5 separate regions of the Homo sapiens genome follow, and regions 1, 3, 4 and 5 are each reported to be linked to region 2. Evidence: microRNA targets listed by miRTarBase, many of them from high-throughput screens and not tested one by one. Region 2 holds a microRNA gene; each other region holds the end of a gene's coding sequence. Distances are from middle to middle.
The links. The annotated mature microRNA hsa-miR-6500-3p reads ACACUUGUUGGGAUGACCUGC and lies in region 2 at 2,229-2,249, shown strand. An mRNA with a match to its seed (bases 2 to 7 or 8) in the 3' UTR can be bound and repressed. Matches are read on the target gene's strand: a 7mer-m8 pairs with bases 2 to 8, a 7mer-A1 pairs with bases 2 to 7 and ends in A, and an 8mer does both.

Region 1: miRTarBase lists TMEM242 as a target of hsa-miR-6500-3p. Seed matches in the 3' UTR shown: 7mer-A1 at 3,945-3,951.
Region 3: miRTarBase lists SHCBP1 as a target of hsa-miR-6500-3p. Seed matches in the 3' UTR shown: 7mer-A1 at 2,289-2,295, 7mer-A1 at 2,417-2,423 and 7mer-A1 at 2,552-2,558.
Region 4: the mRNA of RHOQ is a reported target of hsa-miR-6500-3p. Seed matches in the 3' UTR shown: 7mer-m8 at 963-969.
Region 5: miRTarBase lists TRAF5 as a target of hsa-miR-6500-3p. Seed matches in the 3' UTR shown: 7mer-A1 at 2,587-2,593 and 7mer-A1 at 2,452-2,458.

What each region holds. Positions count from the first base shown.
Region 1 is chr6:157,289,383-157,293,382 of GRCh38, reverse strand. It overlaps TMEM242 (transmembrane protein 242), which reads left to right. Exons shown (of 4, transcript NM_018452.6): 4 at 384-4,000. The coding sequence ends at 482. It also overlaps the pseudogene LOC124901551. Among named protein-coding and RNA genes, the nearest start is that of TMEM242, 32 kb to the left of the region's middle.
Region 2 is chr1:51,057,844-51,061,996 of GRCh38, forward strand. MIR6500 (microRNA 6500) reads left to right here and starts at 2,175; the gene lies at 2,175-2,260. It overlaps MIR4421 (microRNA 4421), which reads left to right and starts at 1,994; the gene lies at 1,994-2,062.
Region 3 is chr16:46,578,136-46,582,135 of GRCh38, reverse strand. It overlaps SHCBP1 (SHC binding and spindle associated 1), which reads left to right. Exons shown (of 13, transcript NM_024745.5): 13 at 82-3,545. The coding sequence ends at 407. Among named protein-coding and RNA genes, the nearest start is that of SHCBP1, 41 kb to the left of the region's middle.
Region 4 is chr2:46,580,686-46,584,685 of GRCh38, forward strand. RHOQ (ras homolog family member Q) reads left to right here. Exons shown (of 5, transcript NM_012249.4): 5 at 243-4,000. The coding sequence ends at 398. PIGF (phosphatidylinositol glycan anchor biosynthesis class F) reads right to left here. Exons shown (of 6, transcript NM_002643.4): 6 at 252-906. The coding sequence ends at 793. Among named protein-coding and RNA genes, the nearest start is that of RHOQ-AS1, 2.4 kb to the left of the region's middle.
Region 5 is chr1:211,372,424-211,376,423 of GRCh38, reverse strand. It overlaps TRAF5 (TNF receptor associated factor 5), which reads right to left. Exons shown (of 11, transcript NM_001033910.3): 11 at 1,478-4,000. The coding sequence ends at 3,722. Among named protein-coding and RNA genes, the nearest start is that of LINC00467, 8.3 kb to the left of the region's middle.

The sequences.
Region 1 (4,000 bases), not on the chromosome of region 2:
TTTGTTTGTTTGTTTGTTTGTTTGTTTTTAAAGAGATAGAGTCTTGCTGTGTTGCCCAGGCTGGACTCAAACTCCTGGGCTCAAGCAATCTACCCACCTCAGCCTCCCGAGTAGCTAGGACTACAGGTGTGAGCCACCATGTCCAGCTAAGAGTGAAGTTTTATGTTATTTATTAATAAATTTATACTCAGAAGAAGAAAGGAAGTATATTTCATTTTCTTTCAAGATACCTAGGATATATATAGTCCCTATCTTTTATTGATGTTCCTTAGCTCTGTATCTGTGAGCAGTGAAGTACTAGCCAGTCAGCAAAGGTGCCATCTCTAATAGCTGTTTTTCTCCTTCTTTTAACATTTGATAACTGATTATTTTTCTTCTTTTAGATGAACGACTTTCGAAGTAAAATGCAATCAATATTTCCAACAATTCCCAAGAACTCCGAATCGGCTGTTGAGTGGGAGGAAACATTGAAATCCAAATGAGATGAGCATGGATGAATTTCAAAATGCTTGTTACAGAAAGGGGTGGCTCTGGAGACACCATGACAGCAAAAGGACTGGGACTGATTTCTCCCAGGAACATGGGCAGATTGCTGACTGAACCAGTGCACTGGATAGCATTCAGCCTCATCACAGGAGAGTATGTGTGTGCGTGCTGGGGGAGGGTAAAGTTTTCCCACAGTTAAGAAGACTATTTAAAAATAGTAATTACAGGAATAACTTCCTTATGTGGAGGGGACCCCATAGGAAATGATTCTGTTTGTAACAGTTGAAGCAAATTTCATACTAAAAAAGTTTATAATAAAAGTATGATAAGAAAATATTTATAAAACAGACCCCCTAATAGCAATAGTACTGCAATGTGTCTAATTAAAGGAGTTTCAAGAGCCTTTCTTGTCAATATATGACAGAACTTGGAAGTCTTATTCTGATTAGCCAGACTACAAAGTGACAGTCACCTGGTAAGTCCTGTATGGTAGGAAGTGGGTGTGGCTCTCGGGTCCTAAATGTGGTCTGTGCTTTACAGCCATCACACACATGCTAGTTATTTACCTGATGCCCTTGCTTGAAGGCCCTATAAATTCTTATACTTAAAACAAAAAGCCAGTAATGAGTTGTGATCACCCCAAAAGGCACAGTTGGGCTAAAATAATGATGATATCAGGGGTAAACATATTTTTTTGAGAAGTTGGTCTGGATCTCTGAACACTGACAATTTGTCATTTTGTCTCAGTTGTCAAAGTAAAAAAAGCCCAGTTGTCATCCGTCTTCAATATTTTTAACCAGAAAGTCACCTGAGTACGGAGTCCCAATATAAAGTATTTGGGACCACCTCCCTAACAAAGCTGTTAGGGTAAATTCTGTGTGCACGCCCAACTCCCTCCTGTCTTCCACAGTCTCCTACAAAAAAAACAGATGGAGAATAATGTCTACATGCAATTGTTTTTACTGCAATTGTATTTTAAAATATTTTCAAGAAGAGAAATACTTTAATATGTCAATATGTCCAGAGAAAAAACCTGTAGTTAAATATCAGTTGTGCAATTTCTTCCTACTTGCCTAGGCTCTAATTAGTCAGCAATCAGGTTTAATAAAGGACATTTGAAATTTCTGTTATCATGAAACCTTTTATTCTAAGGGAGATTTTTAAATGAAATGACAAGAACTTAATGTAATACTTTTCTCTAGACCATGTTACCCTGTTAAAATTGCTGTATTGTTAATGAAACAGGTGTAATCAGCATCTGGAATTCATATGTAATCTGTTAAAAATCCAAGACTGAAAGGAAAGGATTGTGAAATTGGTCAGTGAATGCGGGTAGCAAAAACTCTTCACTGCCTTTCATTTGTAACTAAATCTCCTCTGAGAAGAGATCTGTAGGCTTTGAATGAAAGGAAGGAAAGGCAGGAGCCAAAGGAACAGGTTTTCGTCCATACAATTAGTCTGAATCTAGGTTCCTCTGAATAGAATGGGCACCGCCTGATCCTTTTGTGCTTCATAAATGTGGGTTTCCAACGTGCATGAGATGGCCCTCAAACCTTGTTACAACGATGCACTTTACTCGTTTGATGTGGGGGGAAAAAGAATGGGCACTACCTAAAACTGTTTACAGCTAGAATCTGGGTTTTATTTTTCATAGATGGAGAATGCCTAGTGGTTTCTAAAGGCCTCCACTGGGTGGAGAAAGGAGACTTGCCCACCTGTCTGGAGTGTTAAAAGGAGAAATCATTGTTAACTGATTCTGTTAATGGATTCCTGCCTTGTAACCTCCCGAAGGGCAGGGACCCCTCTCAGGGCCTTGTAAACTGGTGTCAGCACCGCTGCAGAGGCTGCTGCACATCAGGCTGATGGCAGCTAGGCCCTAGGAAGGAGCCAGGGGCCATGGTGGGGGCTCTGCTTTCCCACAGGGCTGGCACAGAGGAGGCCTAGACATATGTTGCTGAAAGAGTGTCCTAATACTAGAGTGGCATGCCTCGTGTCTACAAAACCCTTATATGTCACCTCTGCTGTCCTTGACCGATGGCAGGGGAACTCCCATTAGAATGATGATGAATCCCCTGCAGAGGGGAGGCTGGCAGGGACAAATTCCCTAAAAGAGGGACCAAGCGTCAGCTCCAATTGCATCTTAAAAGCAAAGGTGAAGTAATGCACAGATGGAAATTTAAAAAGAAAACAAGCAGTATGACTCAAGTGGTGTTTTTCACAGTCAGAACTTGAATATCAGTAGATTTCGTCATTTGTCTATTCCTTTTGTACCAGAGGCATATTGTTAAATTGGTTAATGGAAAGGAAAAATGTTGAACAGATAATGTTATTCTTTATGAGACGTACCATCTGTGTATTGAGCTCTGAATGTCCCTGGATATGGAAGAGAGGAAATGTGATGGAATTTCAAGTTTGCCTTCTTTGCTGTCTTTATCTTGGGTTGAGTATGACAAACATAATCACATTTATCTCCTGGAGCATAAAGAGTTTTAATCACCCTATTAACCAGGATGACATTTTTCACAGACTTAAAAAGGAATAGAACAGACATTATCTCCCTATAAGCAATCCATTTCATGGAGGCTGAGCACTAGAAATGCTTTAAAGGATGGATAACGCAGGCCATTTCCATTTCCTGTCTAAGCCAACATTAAGGAGGCTTTCGGTAAGGCTGTTGCTTCCACTGGGTGAGTGTTAAGCTTTACACTTAGAGTCTCAGCGCCCAAAAGAGCTATTAGAGAAAGCACGGGCAGGGAGGAGTGGCTTCCGAGACCCCAGGATTCATTCAAGGGAAAACATGTATCCTGGTAAGTTGCTGCTGCCCTGTGAAAAGGAGTCCATAGGCTGCTGTTATATTCAGAGTCAAGAAAGTGTGGGTTCAGGACAACCTGAGAGTGGAAAGTGGGGGACGGGAGCTGCCTCCGAAGACGCCCGGCAGCCCATCACCAGGAGGACCATGGCCCAAGGGCATGGAAGCATGTGGCTGCTGAGAGGGTCGTGGGCCATCTCCACCACCACCCTCGCGTCAGGGCATGGGCCCAGGCTGGCGTTAAGGGCACTTTGCCTGCTTAGTCAAAAGGTGGCATCGAATCACCTGGGCTGTCACATGTTTTGTTTAGTTTCATGGATAGTATGGGACCAAACTTGCAAATTAATCATTGCAATCTAAGGGGAAAATAGAAGAAATTAAGGTGGGGGTGGGGGGACGGGGAGCCCATGGGGATAAAAGTAATTAAAATCCATTGAATTTAGCTATTTCACTTGGGGCAACATTTAATCTCCAAGATTAAATCTTGGTTTATGGGGAAGGTTATATATTTTCATCTCATTTTTATGTATCATCTTTAAGACAAATTGTTAAGTACAAATGAAAATCAGGTAACATACAAAGGCATTTCATCAAATAGTTAAATTTCCTATGAAAGTTAGTAAAATACATATTTTTATAATACCATGTTCAAGTGAAGTGTTTTTGCTTTCTGCCAAGAGTCATTAAATGATATAGCAAGTATTT
Region 2 (4,153 bases):
TTTTTGTAGTTTAAGTAGAGACAAGGTTTCACCATGTTGGCCAAGCTGGTCTTTAACTCCTGACCTCAGGTGATCCACCTGCCTCGACCTCCCAAAGTGCTGGGATTACAGGCATGAGCCACTGCACCTAACCCATTATTTCTTTAAAAAAGCTTTTTACCTCTTTCTCTTGCTTTTCTTCTTCTAGTACTCTCATTATGCACATATTGGTTTGCTTGATGGTGTCCCATAAGTCCTATAAATTTTCTTCACTCTTTTTCATTCTTTTTTCTCCTCTGACTGGATAATTTCAAATAACCTGTCTTCAAGGGCACAAATTCTTTCTTCTGCTCAATAAAGTCTATTTTTGAAGTTCTCTATTGTGTTTTTAATATCAGTCATTAGGTTTTTTGGTTCCAGAATTTCTTTCTTTTTCTTTTTTTTTTTTTTTTCTTTTTTTGAGTTGGAGTCTCATTCTGTCACCCAGGCTGGAGTGCAGTGGCATGACCTCAGCTCACTGCAACCTCTGCCTCCCAGGTTCAAGTGATTCTCCTGTCTCAGTCTCCTGAGTAGCTGGGATTACAGGTGCACACCACCATGCCCAGCTAATTTTTTGTATTTTAGTAGATATGGGGTTTCACTGTGTTGCCCAGGCTGGTCTCAAACTCCTGAGCTCAGGCAATCCGCCTACCTTGGCCTCCCAAAGTGCTAGGATTACAGGTGTGAGCCACCACTCCCAGCCTGGTTCTTTTTTATAAGTTCTACCTTCCTGTTGAACTTCTTGTATTGTTCATGTATTCTTTCTCTGTTTTCAGATGAAATCAGACATGTTCGAGGTGGTATGGCCGTAGACTCTTTTTCTGTTTTCACTGAGTTGTCCAACTGTGTTCTCCTATTGCATGCTGAACTTCTTTAAAAACAATTATTTCTAATTGTTTGGAAGGCAATTTATAGATATCCATTTCTTTGGGGTTGGTTATTGGAAAATTATTGTGTTCCTTTGGTGGTGTCCTGTTTCTTTGATTTCGTGTGTGCGTATTTCTTGTAGCCTTGGGCTGTTTCTTTGCATATTTCATGGAGGAGTAACTTCTAGAGCATATGAACTGGCTTCATGGAGGAAGACTGTCACCTACAGGTTGGTGCAAGTGATGGCAGCAGTGGCCTGTCTGGAGTAGCCACTGTGAAGATGCCGGCTTCAGCAGGGGAAGCACAACTGGGGCTGCACACTCTGCTGAGCCCACGGGTGCCGGGAACAGGTGGGAGCCCCACCCCCTAACAAGTCAGTGGAGCAGGAGCCACATGCTCCCAGGCACAGCTGCAGCTTCTCAGCTGTAGCCACAGACCCAGGCATCCCTGAGGTCTCAGGGGCCCCGGAAGCCCTTTGTTCCCGTAGGCTTGAAAGTGCCTGCTCCCACTGCCTGGCCTCTCCCTGCTCCTGGCCCCCACTCTGGGGCAGAGCAAAGTTGTGGCAGAGCCCAGGCACTGTTGTGACCCAGCTGGGTACCCAAGCACTCAGGGCAGTGCTGACATGCCAGCCCCCTGCTGTCTCAGGCCATCCAGACTTTGGGAACTGAAGAGCACAAGAGGGAGACCAAGGGGTTGCTCAGGGTGGCTCAGTGTGGGCCTGTAGGCAAACCTCAGCATGAACAGCCTGGGCGGCATGGACAACATGTTGATGGTGACAGGAGGCAGACAGGCTCCTGGGCAGAAAGGGGCAGGTTCCCAGTGAAACGCAACCTTCAAGCCATGGATGGCATGAAGCCTGGGGGCTGGGCTGTCAGCTCCAGGTGGAGTCTGCGGCCTGGAGTGAGAACTTATGGTGCTTTTTCCAGGCCCGCCCATGGCCACCCATGGGCCAATCAGAACACACTTCTTCCTTTCTGAGCCCATAAAAACTATGTTACCTAGCTAGACTCATACAGATGTCAGGACTACCAGCTGCAGGAAGGAGCTACCCACTTCAGGTCTCCTCTACTTGTCAGTATGACCTGCCTGTGGAAAAGAGCTACTCACTCTGGGTCTCCTTTCTGCTGAGAGTTGAACACTTGTTGGGACAACCTGTCTGTGGAAAGGAGCTACCTACTCTGGGTTTCCTCTCCCCTGAGAGCTGGACACTCATCTGGACAACCTGCCTGCAGCTAGGAGCTACCTTCTCTGGGTCTCTTCTCTGCTGAGGGCTGCACTCGTCAGGACTACCTGCCTGCAGAAAGGAGCTATCCACTCCAGGTGTCCTTTCTTCTGAGAGCTGGACACTTGTTGGGATGACCTGCCTGCAGGTAGGAGCTGCCCACTCTGGTCTCCTCTCTGCTGAGGGATGCACTCGTCAGGACTAACTGCCTATGGAAAGGAGCTACCCACTCCAGGTCTCCTCTCCCCAGAGAGCTGGACACTTGTCAGGATGACCTGCCTGTGAAATGGAGCTACCCAATCTGGGGCTCCTCTCTACTGAGGGCTGAACTAGTTGGGATGACCTGCCTGTGGAAAGGAGCTACCAACTCCAGGTCTCCCAAGAGCTGTTCTGTCACTCTTTTGCTCAAGAAAGTTCCTTTCTGCCTTGCTCACCCTCCAGTTTTCTGCATACCTCATTCTTCCTGGACACAGGACAAAAATTCAGGACCTGTTGAATGGTGGGACTGAAAGTGCTATAACACAAACAGAGCTAAAACACCTGCCTCCACCCCACTCGTCACACTGCAGGCAATGAGAAGGAGAGAAGAGCTGCAGCCCTTCAGGGAGCTCAGATGCACAGGCTCCCCCAGCCAGGGCTGTGACACCCTCTTTGGGGCTCTGTGGTTTCTAGTGTCTTGGAGCTTCCAAGTGCCACCATGTTCCCCTTGTCCAGATGTGAGTGCCCAGAGCAGAAGCCACTTATAGTGCATCTGATCCAGCCACAGGCTTGAACAGAGCCAGCACCTGTGGTGGCACCTGGAACTGCCCACCCCACCACAGCAGCCAATGCTTGGCTGTGTGCAGCAGCCAGACCCCATGCTTGCTTACTTGTGCACCCCTCTCCTCTCCATGCCTGGATCATTCTTTGAAGGTGTGGGAGCCAGGCCAGTAGCATGAGCTGAGTGCAGCCTGCCAGGCCGAGTGGGTGGAACAAGCCCAGCAGGCTTGAGCAAAACTCTGGCAAAGGCACCACTGGCCACAGAGGTTTCCAACTGGAAAAGTGACACCTGGAGGATGCCATGACACAAGGATTCTGACTGATGGGTATGCAGCCCTTGGTACAACACTGAATATAAATGGTAAGAGTGAACGTCCTTGTCTTATTCCTGATCTTAGGTGGTACTATGGTTTGAATATGATTTGTTTGGCCCTGCCAAGTCTCATGTTGAAATCTGATCCCCAGTGTTAAAGATGGGGCCTGGTAGGAGTGTTTGGGTTGTGGGGGTGGATCCTTCATGAATAGCTCTGTACCATTCTCACGAGAGTGAGTTCTTACTTTTAGTTCCCACAAGAACTGGTTGTTGAAAAAAGCCTGGTACCTCCTCTAGTCTCTCTCTTGCTTCCTCTCTCACCATATGATATGCATATACCAGCTCCTCTTCACTTTCTGCCATAAGTGGAATCAGCCTGGAGCCTTCACTAGAAGCAGATGCCAATGCCATGATTCTTGTGCAGCCTGCAGAACCGTGAGACAAATGAACCTCTTTTCTTCATGAATTACCCAGCCTCAGGTATGCCTTTATATTAATAGTAACACAGACTAAGATGGGATAATTTTTTCAAGCCTTTCACCACAAAGTGACATTAGCAGTGTGTTTTCATAGATGCCCTTTATCAGGCTGAGGAAGTTTCCTTCTATTCCAGGTTTCTTGTTTGTTTTTTTAATCATTAAAGTGTGTTGAATTTTCTCAAGTGCTTTTTCATATCTATGACATGACTGTTTGGCTTTTGTCCATTATTCTATTAATATGATATATGATAATGTATGCTGAGCCTGTATTCATGGAATAAATTCCACTTTGTCATGGTCCATAAATATTTTTATATGGAGCTGGAATCATTCTGATAGTCTATATTCATAACAATAGTTTATATTCATAAAGTTACTGGAAAGAATTTGGCTGTTAATCTTATCAAGAATACCTCAGAGATGATGAGCTGCTTCTGTCTTTCTGCTTTCAATATACTCTCTGTGCCCTTGGTTTTCCAGTTGGTTATGTTGTGT
Region 3 (4,000 bases), not on the chromosome of region 2:
TGAGAAGACTGTGTAGAAATATATGTTTTTGTTGGGTTAGCTTGTATATTTAACTTTGTTATTATTTGTTTGTTTCTCCAGAAAATAAAGCGCTTAAAATTCAGACAAGTGGAGAGCCAGATGTGGCTGAAAGAGTGGATCTAGAAGAGCTGATTGAGTGTGCAACTGGTAAAATGGAGCTTTGTGCAAGAACTGACCCTTCTGAGCAAGTCGAGGGAAATTGTGAAATTGTAAATGAACTAATTGCTGCCTCCACACAGAAAGGCCAGATAAAGAAGAAAAGGTTGAGTGAACTGGGGATCACGCAAGCTGATGACAACTTAATGTCACAGGAGATGTTTGTTGGGATTGTGGGGAACCAGTTCAAGTGGAATGGGAAAGGTAGTTTTGGCACATTTCTTTTCTGACTACAGTGATGTAAGTAGATAGCAAAATACTGGATTTTGCACATGCTGCCCTAAGAATCACTGCTGCCATTGTAGTTTGCTGTATTGTCTGTATTTTATATTTGATTATTTGGGCTTGAGTGAAAGGTAGATTTATTTCCATTTGCAGGTGTTGCACATAAAACACTCCCTCTTTATAAGAAAAATCATAAATGCATATAAAATAGAAAATATTTGGAGATTGCTTATCTGAAAGTCTTGCTTTCTTATACACATGGTTCTCTCATATTAAGCCTGGTAGTAACTTTTTAGTGTAATTACCTTTAGCACTTCAAAGACGAGGAAGTAAGGAAGGGAATGCAAGACTAGTGCATAAAAATGCAATAGGTGTCATATGTACAGCATTCTTCTTAGAGTTGCCTTTTCATCCCAATTACAGTGAGTCTGATTTCCATCCTGTATTTGCATAATACTTGTCTTAAAATAAAAGCTTTTATGATTGGGAATTTATCTGCCTAATCAGACTTATTATTGAGACGTCAATGGGACGCATTTTTCTGTTGAGCTATGCAGTCGTCAAAACAGCGATAGACAGCATAGGAGGTTTGAAGCAGAAATGAAATGTGTTATTCAGAGCCAATGTTGTACATAGAGCATTTTCACTATTGCTGAATGGGAATGATTAAAAACAAGGTATTTTTCGGGCCAGGCGGTGGCTCACGCTTGTAATCGCAGCACTTTGGGAGGCTGAGGCAGGAGGATCACTTGAGCCCAGGAGTTCAAGACTAGCCTAGGCAACATAGTGAGACCCTGTCTCTACTAAAAATAAATTTAAAAAAAATTAGCTGAGTGTGGTGGTGCATGCATGTAGTTCCAGCTACTCAGGAGGCTGAGGCTAGAGGATCCTTGAGCCCAGGAGGTTGAGGCTGCAGTGAGGTGTGATTGCGCCACTGCATTCCAGCTTGGGCGACAGAGCGAGACCCAGTCTCAAAAAAAAAAAAAAGTATTTTTCTCTTACCGTTACAGTATTCTGATTATATTACTGACACAGTCAAAATGATTAACTGTACAACCTGTATCTGCTGGGTGTTCTTGTTATCATATTGTAAAACAGCTTTAAAAATATTTATATTTTAAAAACTGTATGTGACATTAATATGCCTAATGATTAAAATTATAGTGATGAAATAACAAAATTGAATCTTGTTATATCTTTTCAAACTCACTGTGGGCCATAGTGTCAGTGTAGCATATGTGGTCATTTAAGAATACATGGTATTTTGGTATCTGTTTTCATGCTTTAGAAAGAGTATTACATTTTTTCCCATTAAGTGTGGTTATGTTTGTTTTTTAAATTTGAGTAAAAAATAATTCTTATTTTTTGGATGCTACTAAATGTAGGATTTATGTTAGATTTATTATTTGATCATTGAAAGGTATTTTTACTTTTAAAAAATCTTGTTGCAAGGAGGTTTAAAAAGTAATGTTCATTTCTGCATCAGTTTCAGCCAAATGTTGATATTAAAACCTTTTATTCTTTTTTTTAATTTTTGCCTCTAGATGTGATGCCTTAAGATAAAAACCATTTATTCAACTTAAAAAAAAATCACTTTTTTTTTTTTTTTGAGATGGAGTCTTGCTCTGTCACCCAGGCTGGAGTGCAGTGGCACTATCTCGGCTTACTGTAACCTCCACCTCCTGAATTCAAGCAATTCTCCTGCCTCAGTCGCCTGAGTAGCTGGGATTATAGGTGCCCGCCACCATGCCCAGCTAATTTTTTTTTTGTATTTATTTTATTTTTATTTTATTTTGTTTTGTTTTTGAGATGGAGCTTCACTTTGTCACCCAGGCTGGAGTGCAGTGGCATGATCTCGGCTCATTGCAACCTCAGTCTCCTGGGTTCAAGTGATTCTCATGCCTCAGCCTCCCAAGTAGCTGGTATGACAGCCACCATGCCTGGCTAATTTTTGTATTTTTAGTAGAGACAGGGTTTAACCATGTTGGCCAGGCTGGTCTCAAACTCCTGACCTCAAGTGATCCACCCACCTTGGCCTCCCAAAGTGCTGGGATTACAGGCATGAGCCACGTGCCTGGCCTTTTTTTTGTATTTTTAGTAGATATGGGGTTTCACCATGTTGCCCAGGCTGTTCTCAAACTCCTGACCTCAAGTGATCCACCCACCTCAGCCTCCCAAATCACATTGATTTTTCAATTGAATTTCTACTTTATCTTGGTTTAGATTTTGTAGATAAGTTAGTAACATTTATACCTTCCTTGTTTCTTTTTATAACATGGAGTTTTTCAGATTTCATGTCTATTTTAGCTTAAATCTAAGCTTATATTAATTTTTATTCACATGATTCATTATAATGAGTAGGCCTACTTTGTTCTTATTTAAGTTATATGCAGTACATTTTGCCTCAATCATGGAGAGTTAAACATCTCAAATGGTATAGCATAGGGAATTTAGGGAGTGCCCTAGAGGGGTATGGGTTTGATATTTGAGATGAAAACACTGATGTGGAGAAAGGATAGCCTTCTGTGTTGACTAATTGTGTGTCCTGTCCTTATGGTCCACTCTTAGTGTGACCTTGAATTTATGGCAGGTAGCAAAATTCTATTTTGCTGATTTGAGTATTTTATTTTAGCTTCTTTAGATGTATTTCCCTTCTTCAGTTTCTTGTTGTATTATTGCACCATAGATATTAACACGAATATATTTTTAAAAACTGCCCAGAGATCATTTGATCTCAAGTGTATATACACTTCACTTTTCTGGAGTTACAGAAGGATGGTGAAATAATCATTTTCTGGATTTTGCTTTTCAGAGGGAGATTGAAGAAAGTTCAATAGAACACTGATGAGCTCATAAGAACCGTGTCGTTCATGTTTCTTTGTAATTCAGTTTGCTGTTTTTATTCTTATTCCTTTCTAGGAAGTACATTCCACAGGCTTCTATGGAAATTAAGTTGAAATAAATTTTGATAATTGGCCTTTGATGCAAAATTTATGCATAGCATTTAATTTTATAACATTTTGTTTTATTCTGTGATTAAATATATATATGTATATGTTTTAAAGTCTTATATGTGGTGAACATTCTCCTCTTTTTTTAGTTCTCACTATTAATAGAAAAAAATATATATTTTAAAAACAAAACAGGTGTAATATATCAATGCTCTGAGAATTGCTATTGCTATTTTCCCTTAATATATTGCAGAAAAATATGTCTGTACATACAAATCCACCTTATTCTTTTGATAGTTGTGTTATAGCCCATTGCTGGAATTCTTTCAGTTGTAAGTGATAGAAACTCAACTGAGAAAGGCTGTATGAGAGTTGGTTCTTGGAACTAAACATCTAAGGATGAGAGCTTGATTACATTTCTTACTTTTATAAGGTTTCTTGACAGTATGAGTTCTGTTTTCTTTCTTTTCCCCTTCCCCTTCCCCTTCCCCTTCCCCTCCATCTCCTTCCCCTTCCCCTCCATCTCCTTCCCCTTCCCCTTCCCCTTCCCCTCCATCTCCTTCCCCTTCCCTTTCCCTTTCCCTTTCCCTCTCCCTTTTCCTTTCCCTTCCCTTCCCTCTCTGTCACCCAGGGTGGAATGCAATGGC
Region 4 (4,000 bases), not on the chromosome of region 2:
ACAGTGCTTGACATATAGTAGATACCCAGTAAATATGTGGTGAGTGAAATAATTTTTCATAGAAAGTCTGGAAGGACATATACTAGTATTTTAAAATCCCCTCTGGGGTTATGAACATGGATGATGAATGTATTCTTTTTGCATAGCTGTATTTTATAATTTTCTTTATAATGATGTGTTTATGTCATGCCAATTGTATAAACATGATCTTATATATTTGTGATTTTTTTTCTCCCTCCCAGATAGGAGCATGCTGCTATGTGGAATGTTCAGCTTTAACCCAGAAGGGATTGAAGACTGTTTTTGATGAGGCTATCATAGCCATTTTAACTCCAAAGAAACACACTGTAAAAAAAAGAATAGGATCAAGATGTATAAACTGTTGTTTAATTACGTGAGAAACATCTTCAGTGGCCAAGGAAACTGTCCATTTCTCTCAGAAAGCAAATGAAATGCTACAGCTATACCCAGACCTTTTATAGGTAATGAAGCAGTTCAAAACTTGAAAGAAAACAAAACCTGTCCTCAGAATTCTATAAAGTGTATTAAGAATGTTCCTTAAAGGTTTAAGAAGCAGTAAGCAGCATCTGAAGCCACAATCTATTATAAATACTTTATTTCAACTAGAAGGTACAATCTCTCAGGGGTTTCATAGTTTAAAAAGCTACAATCACATCATGTTGTAACTACGTAAAAAACAGAGCTGTAAATGGAACTGCTTGGCTTTGACCATACACATTTCTGCCCAGCCCTTACAGAATCTGCACAAAGAAATATCTCCCTTTGCTCCAGTTAATTGTTCTTGTATGTAAGTTGCTTTCTATTCCAGTATATCCAGAGTGGTGAAATAACAAGGCCAGCCACGTAGCCAAAGGTCGCTCCAAGCGTACAGGAGATGGGCCATACCTGAGGAGAGAATGTATGAGATCAAAAAAGAACAAATGTTTTATTATTACTTGAGCACAAGTGTAACCTAAATATTTCTATATTAAAGCTTAATGTGCTTTCTTAAAGAATGCCAAAAGTGTAATAAGGTCATAACTGCATTTATCATGAACACTAAAAATGTACACATTTTAGTTAATGTGCATTAAACTGTAACAAGGCTTCTGGCAATTGTAGATTTAGTTTGACGCTCCCCAAAGTGCATGAGACACATGCTAAAATTACAAATTAAAATTTTGGGTCAGACTTTGCCATAATGATAGACTCAATTTAGCTCTCTGAACTAGTTGGTAATTTTTTTTTTTTAATTCCCACTTTGGCTGTGTACATCAAATGAAATGAGAAGTGTGTATGCTGACCAAACCACAAGAAACTTTCTTTAAGTTGTGTTAAAGAGGAAAGACCTAGAATCCAAGCGTGTTACATGAAAATTGTAACAGAGCAGCTGCTTCCACCTTTCAGATATAGATGTTGGAACCACAGCAGAAGTTATAGAGCGACAACTTATATACACACCTAGAATGTAAGTTAAACAAAATACCGGCTTCCAGAGACCCCTTTTCTCCAGCCATATTACATCAGGCTAGAAGTAATTAATGTTGATTTATTTCATCTACAAGCAGTTGGTCCCTAAGTGAAAGGCTCTGCTTGAAAAAAAAAAGAAAAAAAAGTTGGAGGAAAATTTTCATGTTCTTCTGTGAAGCTTATTTGGTACACTGGAGCCATTTCTAATCTTTCTCTGGGGGGAACAGGCCACAGAACTGTGTTAGAGGTGAACCATCTTAATTACTAGTTCTATTACCTAATTCAGCTTCCTTGTTTGGTCTGCTGTGGATCTGCCTTATTGCATATGCCATGCATCAGATAATGGATGCATCAGATAATGGTGTTAGACAAAGCTTCATTGTGAACAACCTAATGCATTTTAGAGAAACAATCTCATCACATTTTTTCTAGCCTTTCCTACATTTAAACTTGCTGTTGCCCAAATTATAATTTTTTAAATGTCTTTGGTGGGCTTCTGTTAATTCACATGACTTGAGCTTATAGCTATGTCTACTGCACAGATTGGGTAATGGAACACTAAACTTTTATACTTGAAAATGACAGCCTTAAATGCTCATATCAGTCACAAATCTAGGATGTACTGTCTTGTTGTATGTGAGCTTTGTAGAGATTTTTAAAAATATAAGCATCACCTTCCCATTGAAGAGTGGAGAGAGTCTACTGGATGACTGGCCAGGAACTTTCTCTCTGAATCGGACATTTGGATGTCTTCTTTCTTCCAAGAAATGGTGGTTCACATTAAAGTATCATGGCCTTATGTATGCTCAAATGGAATCTTATGTAACTTTCTTATTTAATTTTGGTCTGCTTATTTTTAGATAAAATTGAAAGGAATTGTATAAATCAATTAACATATTAGCTGAGTTGTCCAACACATGGTATAAACGAATTACAACAGTAAACTATTACACATTTCCAACTTGCCTTTGGGGATTTATGAGGATTTTTTTTGGTGGGGGGAGGGGGCTCCAATTCATATCTCTGAAACCCTTCACACTTGGTTTACTAATTCAAAGTTAGAAGTCTAGAATTTGCCCTGCCCTAACAGAAACAGATTAGGAATTTGTCTACACAAACTGGTGTCACCTGTTTCTTGACTGGGATTTGGTTTCCTCATTATAAATATGGGAGGTAGAACAGAGATCTCCAACGTCTCTCCCATTTATCACAGTAATTTTCTTATTCACAGTAATCATTGTTGGATGTTACCTTTTCAGCTTCACATTCTCAAGATGGTAAAAATCATGTATATAGATTATCAGAACTCTAAGCAAAGATGACTGTCACATCTGAAGCTGAGGTGCCTTAGGTACTCTACTGACCTTGATGGGTTTGGAGTTCCCCATTGCTTATCAAGAGCTTTTTAATTGCTTTGGTTCTTTAGTTTTTCTTTTTGCAAAAATCCTTCCTGTCACTTTAACTAAAAACCAAAGATTTGTTTTCTATTGATAAGCAGACTAGAGAAAAACTGCCTTATTTTCAGAAGCATGTCTTCATTCAAAGCTTAGGCTTCAATAGAAATTCAGACTAATCACTGAAATGACTATTTCAAACTAGTGAAATATCTGGGAAATAAACTGCTTCAAAAATATTTTACTGACATGAATTTTGCTAGTGAATACAAATACACTGCCTCAAATAAGGCCATGTATGAATGAACTTACAAGATATTTGAGTTAATCAGTGTTTGCATATAGAGAATTAGTTCTAAAGTTCTTAAAAATAAATTTAGGGGCTCCCTGAAATTTTATTTAATACTTTGCTAACTTACACTCTTGTTTTATCTCCACAGGTACATTTTAGGTTAGCTCATGGTGAATTCTATTTACAATAAGTGGAGCTTGGATTAATGGGTTTTGTTATGAATTATCTTAGTGACTTTAGACACTGTTTCCATTTGATTTTTAACTATTTAAAATACCAAATTAAATACCAGTTTGTTGGTTGTTACTTTTAAATGATTGTTACTTTAACAGTGTCCCTTCTTAACACATGGGGTTACAAATAAAATACTATGCATAGTTTACTATCTACGTAAAGCACTGAACTTTTTACCTTAGTAGTTTTTATTTATTACCCTATGTAAACATTTAGGATAATACTCTTTCCTCTATTTATGCTGAGAGTCTACTAATCATTGGCAAAGTATGAGTCCCTATACTCTGTTAAAAAAAGCTCACTGTTAAAGTATAGGGAGAATAGTAATCCCTCATGAATCCCAGCTAGATTCCAATTTGGGTTACTAAATTGTATTTTAATCATTTTGTAATTTCAGTATGGCTCTTTGTTCTCAAACACATACATACCACCACGCACATTCTTTTAAACAGCTGCCACACCTCACCTCCAACAGAATGCCAAAAATGAAATGTTAAAAAATTTTGTCTAATGAAGGGTTACGGCTTGGAACACTTGGTTATTCATGTTATGTAAATCAAGAAGTGCATGCCATCAGCAAATTAAAATGTGGACTGGCTTTGAAGACTGT
Region 5 (4,000 bases), 160 Mb from region 2:
AGGCAGAGGTGGAAGGATCACCTGAACCCAGGGAGGTCAAGGCTGCAGTGAGCTGTAATTGCGCCACTGGACTGCAGCCTGGGTGACAGAGTAAGACCCTATCTCAAAAAAAAGAGTATTCCAGATAGACATATAGCACAAGCTCAGACAAATATCAGATAGCTTGGGGTGGTGTTGCTAAATGCAAAGTAGAAATGTCAGGAGGTGAGGCCGGAAAGGTACAAGTGGCATGGAGGGCCTTGTATGGCACTCCATGAGGCTGGGCTTTTTCCTATGGGCTATGAAGCCACAGTGTGGGTGGGGTGGGAGTCATATTCAGATTTTCATTTGAGACGGATCATCAGGTGACACTGTAGAGGTTGGATTTCAAAGAGGCACAACTAAAAATAGGAAGAATAGTTGTAAGTTAAAAAATAATGTAGGCCTGAAACAGGACAGTAGTACTGAGGAGGGGTAAGTAGTAGGAATACTTTTAAAGAAATTATTTGGAGATCAAATTGGCAGTGCAGGGTGGGTTACTGGATAGGGAAGATGAGGGAGGAATCTAAAATAGTGTCCAAACTTTTGGCTCGGACAATGATGTCATTTAGGTAGAAAAAATTGAGGAGTAATAGGTTGGCAGTAGTGGGGAAGGTAGGAAGATTTCCAGTTCCGTATGGTGAAGTGGTTCTTAAAGTCCCTATGGGATTCCTGAATTTAGATGTTCAGCAGGTACTCAGATCAGCTTATGGCAAAGGCCAGGGTCAGAGATACAGACTTGAGGAGAGAGCAGCATGGGGGTGAGAGTGTGTTCAGAAGGGCTGTGGGAGTGCTCTGGGAGTGGCTGCTGTTCCGAGGCTGGCATTTGGCCCTGTTGACATTCTTTTCTCTTCCCACCTTCCTTGGTGTTTCTCTTACCTCTGATCATTCCTTCTCCAAATGCTTTACAGGCTCGTCTTCCTCTTCCCATAGAATGTGTTATTCCTGTGTGATTTCACCACCTGGGACCCCTACTGTGCCTCCATCAAACCTTTATCTCCAGCTCAGAATTCTTATATAAGATTGAGACGTATGTCTCCAACTGCTTTCTAAGAGAAAAGAGGTAGTCAGTAGCGTGGACTGATTATCCAGGGACCACACAAAGGGTTTGTACTTCACTGTCCTATTGTATTCAGGACTGGCACTGTGAATTGATCCTGGCTGTGACTATCTCTTGTTTTCTCTGAAAATACCAAATGTGGAAATCAGGAGTCAGATTTCAGACTTGTTAATAAGCATTATTAACACACACACCCCCACTATAATCCTTCTGTAACTTATTAACTTCCCCTTTATGCTTAGTGTATTGTTATCTTTTCATCAGGAACCAAAATTAACCCAAAATGGAAATAAAAATTTAAATCTTATTGATACAGAAGAAAAATTACTGTCCTGTTCATAAAAAAAGGAAAAATAGTTTACATGGATCCACCTTGTTTAAAACAAAAATCACAACTCGTTTTGTGAAAAAGAGGTGCTTTTTACTCTAGTATTCCTTGTTCTGGGATCACTTAATCACTATTTCGATGATGAAGGAACTCTGAACTCCTAAGCAAACCATGCCATGACATACTTTATATATATGCACAAAAGTTGGATAAAACACAAAACCAGCATTTTGACAAATTCACTTTAAAATGTTTTCCACATCAACTACTTAAAAGAAGTTACAGCAATATGATCTTCCACTGCTCAGGAAGACAGAGTGAACTTGGATATGATGAATATTAAAAACAAACATACAGAGCACCTGGGTCTGGACTTGTGGGCTAAAGAAATGCTTCCTGAATTTGTCCGAGGTGATGTGTTGAGCAACCGTGCCACAGTTCACCAGCAGTGACACTCTAGTTCTTCAGTATATTCCTGTTGTGAACCTATTTCTTTGAATTTAATCATCTGGGATGATTGCTGCAGTGTGAGTCTTTAGCATTTTGAAAATCCCACAGAAGAGATTAAGAAGGTTCCTCTTCCCAGAAGACACTCATATAAAGCATGCTTCTATAGGGTTAACTGTTCAGAAATTGTAAGGTGCATGGTCATCACCAGGTAAGCAGCTCTACAGGGGCCCATGGCCCATACTCATCCTTGCGTGCCCAGGGGAGCCAGCGTGCATATGAGCAGTAGGGAAGTGGCATAACAACGCAGAAGGGCTCAGGACAACTTGGCATTTTTGTTGTTGTTAAACTCAGGCTTATCAAGAGTCATAAGGACTCATCTCAGTTTGTATATACACCTTCAGACCCATACAGATAGATGCATAAGAATATGATCATTTCTGTTCTTCACAGAGTACTCAGAATTCTGACAAGAAACATCACAAGTTTATATAAATGCCCATTTGCATAGCAGCTTACAAATTCAATAGTTGTCAGAGGCTTGACGCGGTGGGTCATGCCTGTAATCTCAGCACTTTGGGAGGCCGAGGCGGGCAGATCACTTGAGGTCAGGAGTTTGAGATCAGCTTGGCCAACATGGCAAAACTCCGTCTCTACTAAAAATACAAAAATTACCTGGGTGTGGTGACGGGCGCCTGTAATCCCAGCTACTCAGGAGGCTGAGGCAGGAGAATCACTTGAATTCGGGAGGCAGAGTTTGCAGTGAGCTGAGATCATGCCACTGTACTCCAGCCTGGGTGACAATGAAACTCTGTCTCAAAAAAAAAGTTATCAGAGAATAGTAGATACTGTTTTAGCCATCAGTTTTCGCTGAGAGTACTTCTGACACCCATAGGAAATTGTAAAGGTTTTCTCCTCAAGTTGTAAATTCCTTTTATCCATTTATGACATTTTCTCTATCATATACTAAATTCTATCCATCCTCACATTGATTTATTACTGTCACCAAAATACATTCGAACTGTTTGTATACACACATATATAGGTGTATATGTATGTGTGTGTGTATATATATATTTATTTGGTTGAATCTTATGAAACTGCTAATTTTTTACCATTTTTGACCTATGAAAATAGTTTTTTTCATAGGGTTGAACCTAACAAAATCTGAACTTTAGCTAGCTGGCTATATCTCATATACTATGCAGTACTTTCTGCTTTACTTCAGCAGGAAGAATGAAAATGCTTACCCCATTCACCAGTTCTTATGCAGCCTTGCAAAACTGTGCTTGCAAACTGCTGGTGAATTTCATGAAAATACTTAGAGGTATAGTAATTTTCATATATTTAGCATTTAACTGAAAAAAAGGTCCAAACTGAGCATATTATCTTTGTAACTACATCACCCACTACTTAACTGGAACAGCCTACCTTATAAAGATGGCTTTTGCAGACTTAAGGCCAGGTCTAGAATCAATAGGCCAAACAATAAAATATCAAAACATTTTCAACTGGGATTCTGCTACCTCTGTGTCCTCCATAACACTCAATATTTAGAGTGCCCGAGACACTGCGCTAAGCACCAGTAAAAGAGAAACGCCCCAAAAACTTCAAGAAACTTACCATCTTTCAAGAAATATAAAAATATAAATAATAAGAGAATATTCTAAGAGTTTTAAGTTTCAAACTGGGACAGAGTAAAATGTAAAAAGACAGCACTTCAGAAGTTTTAAACTGACTTCAAACGTTAAGGAAAAAGGCAAATACAAATGTGCTTTGAGTCTAAATCCAGGTCAATATGATAATCAAATGTGCTCTCCTCCACAGTTCTGGCCCCAAGAAGTCCTCTTATCACCCCATAACAGTGACTAGAGATCCTCCAGGTCAGTTAAGTCCACGGCCACTTTCAAGAACAGAGTGTCATCTTTAATGTAGGCGTTCTTGGCATTCTCCAAAACAGAATGAGCCACAAAGCGGGGACAGCCAGATGCAATGTTCATCTCCCCATCAGGTCTTTTAAAGCTGCTGCTATTGGGGTCAGGTTTGAAGGTCTCCATAATGTTCTTTTTGCCACTCTGGTCCAGAAGCATCAGGGTCACCCTCTGCCTGAATGGCCACTGCAACAGTGAGTCAAACTCTCCTCGCAT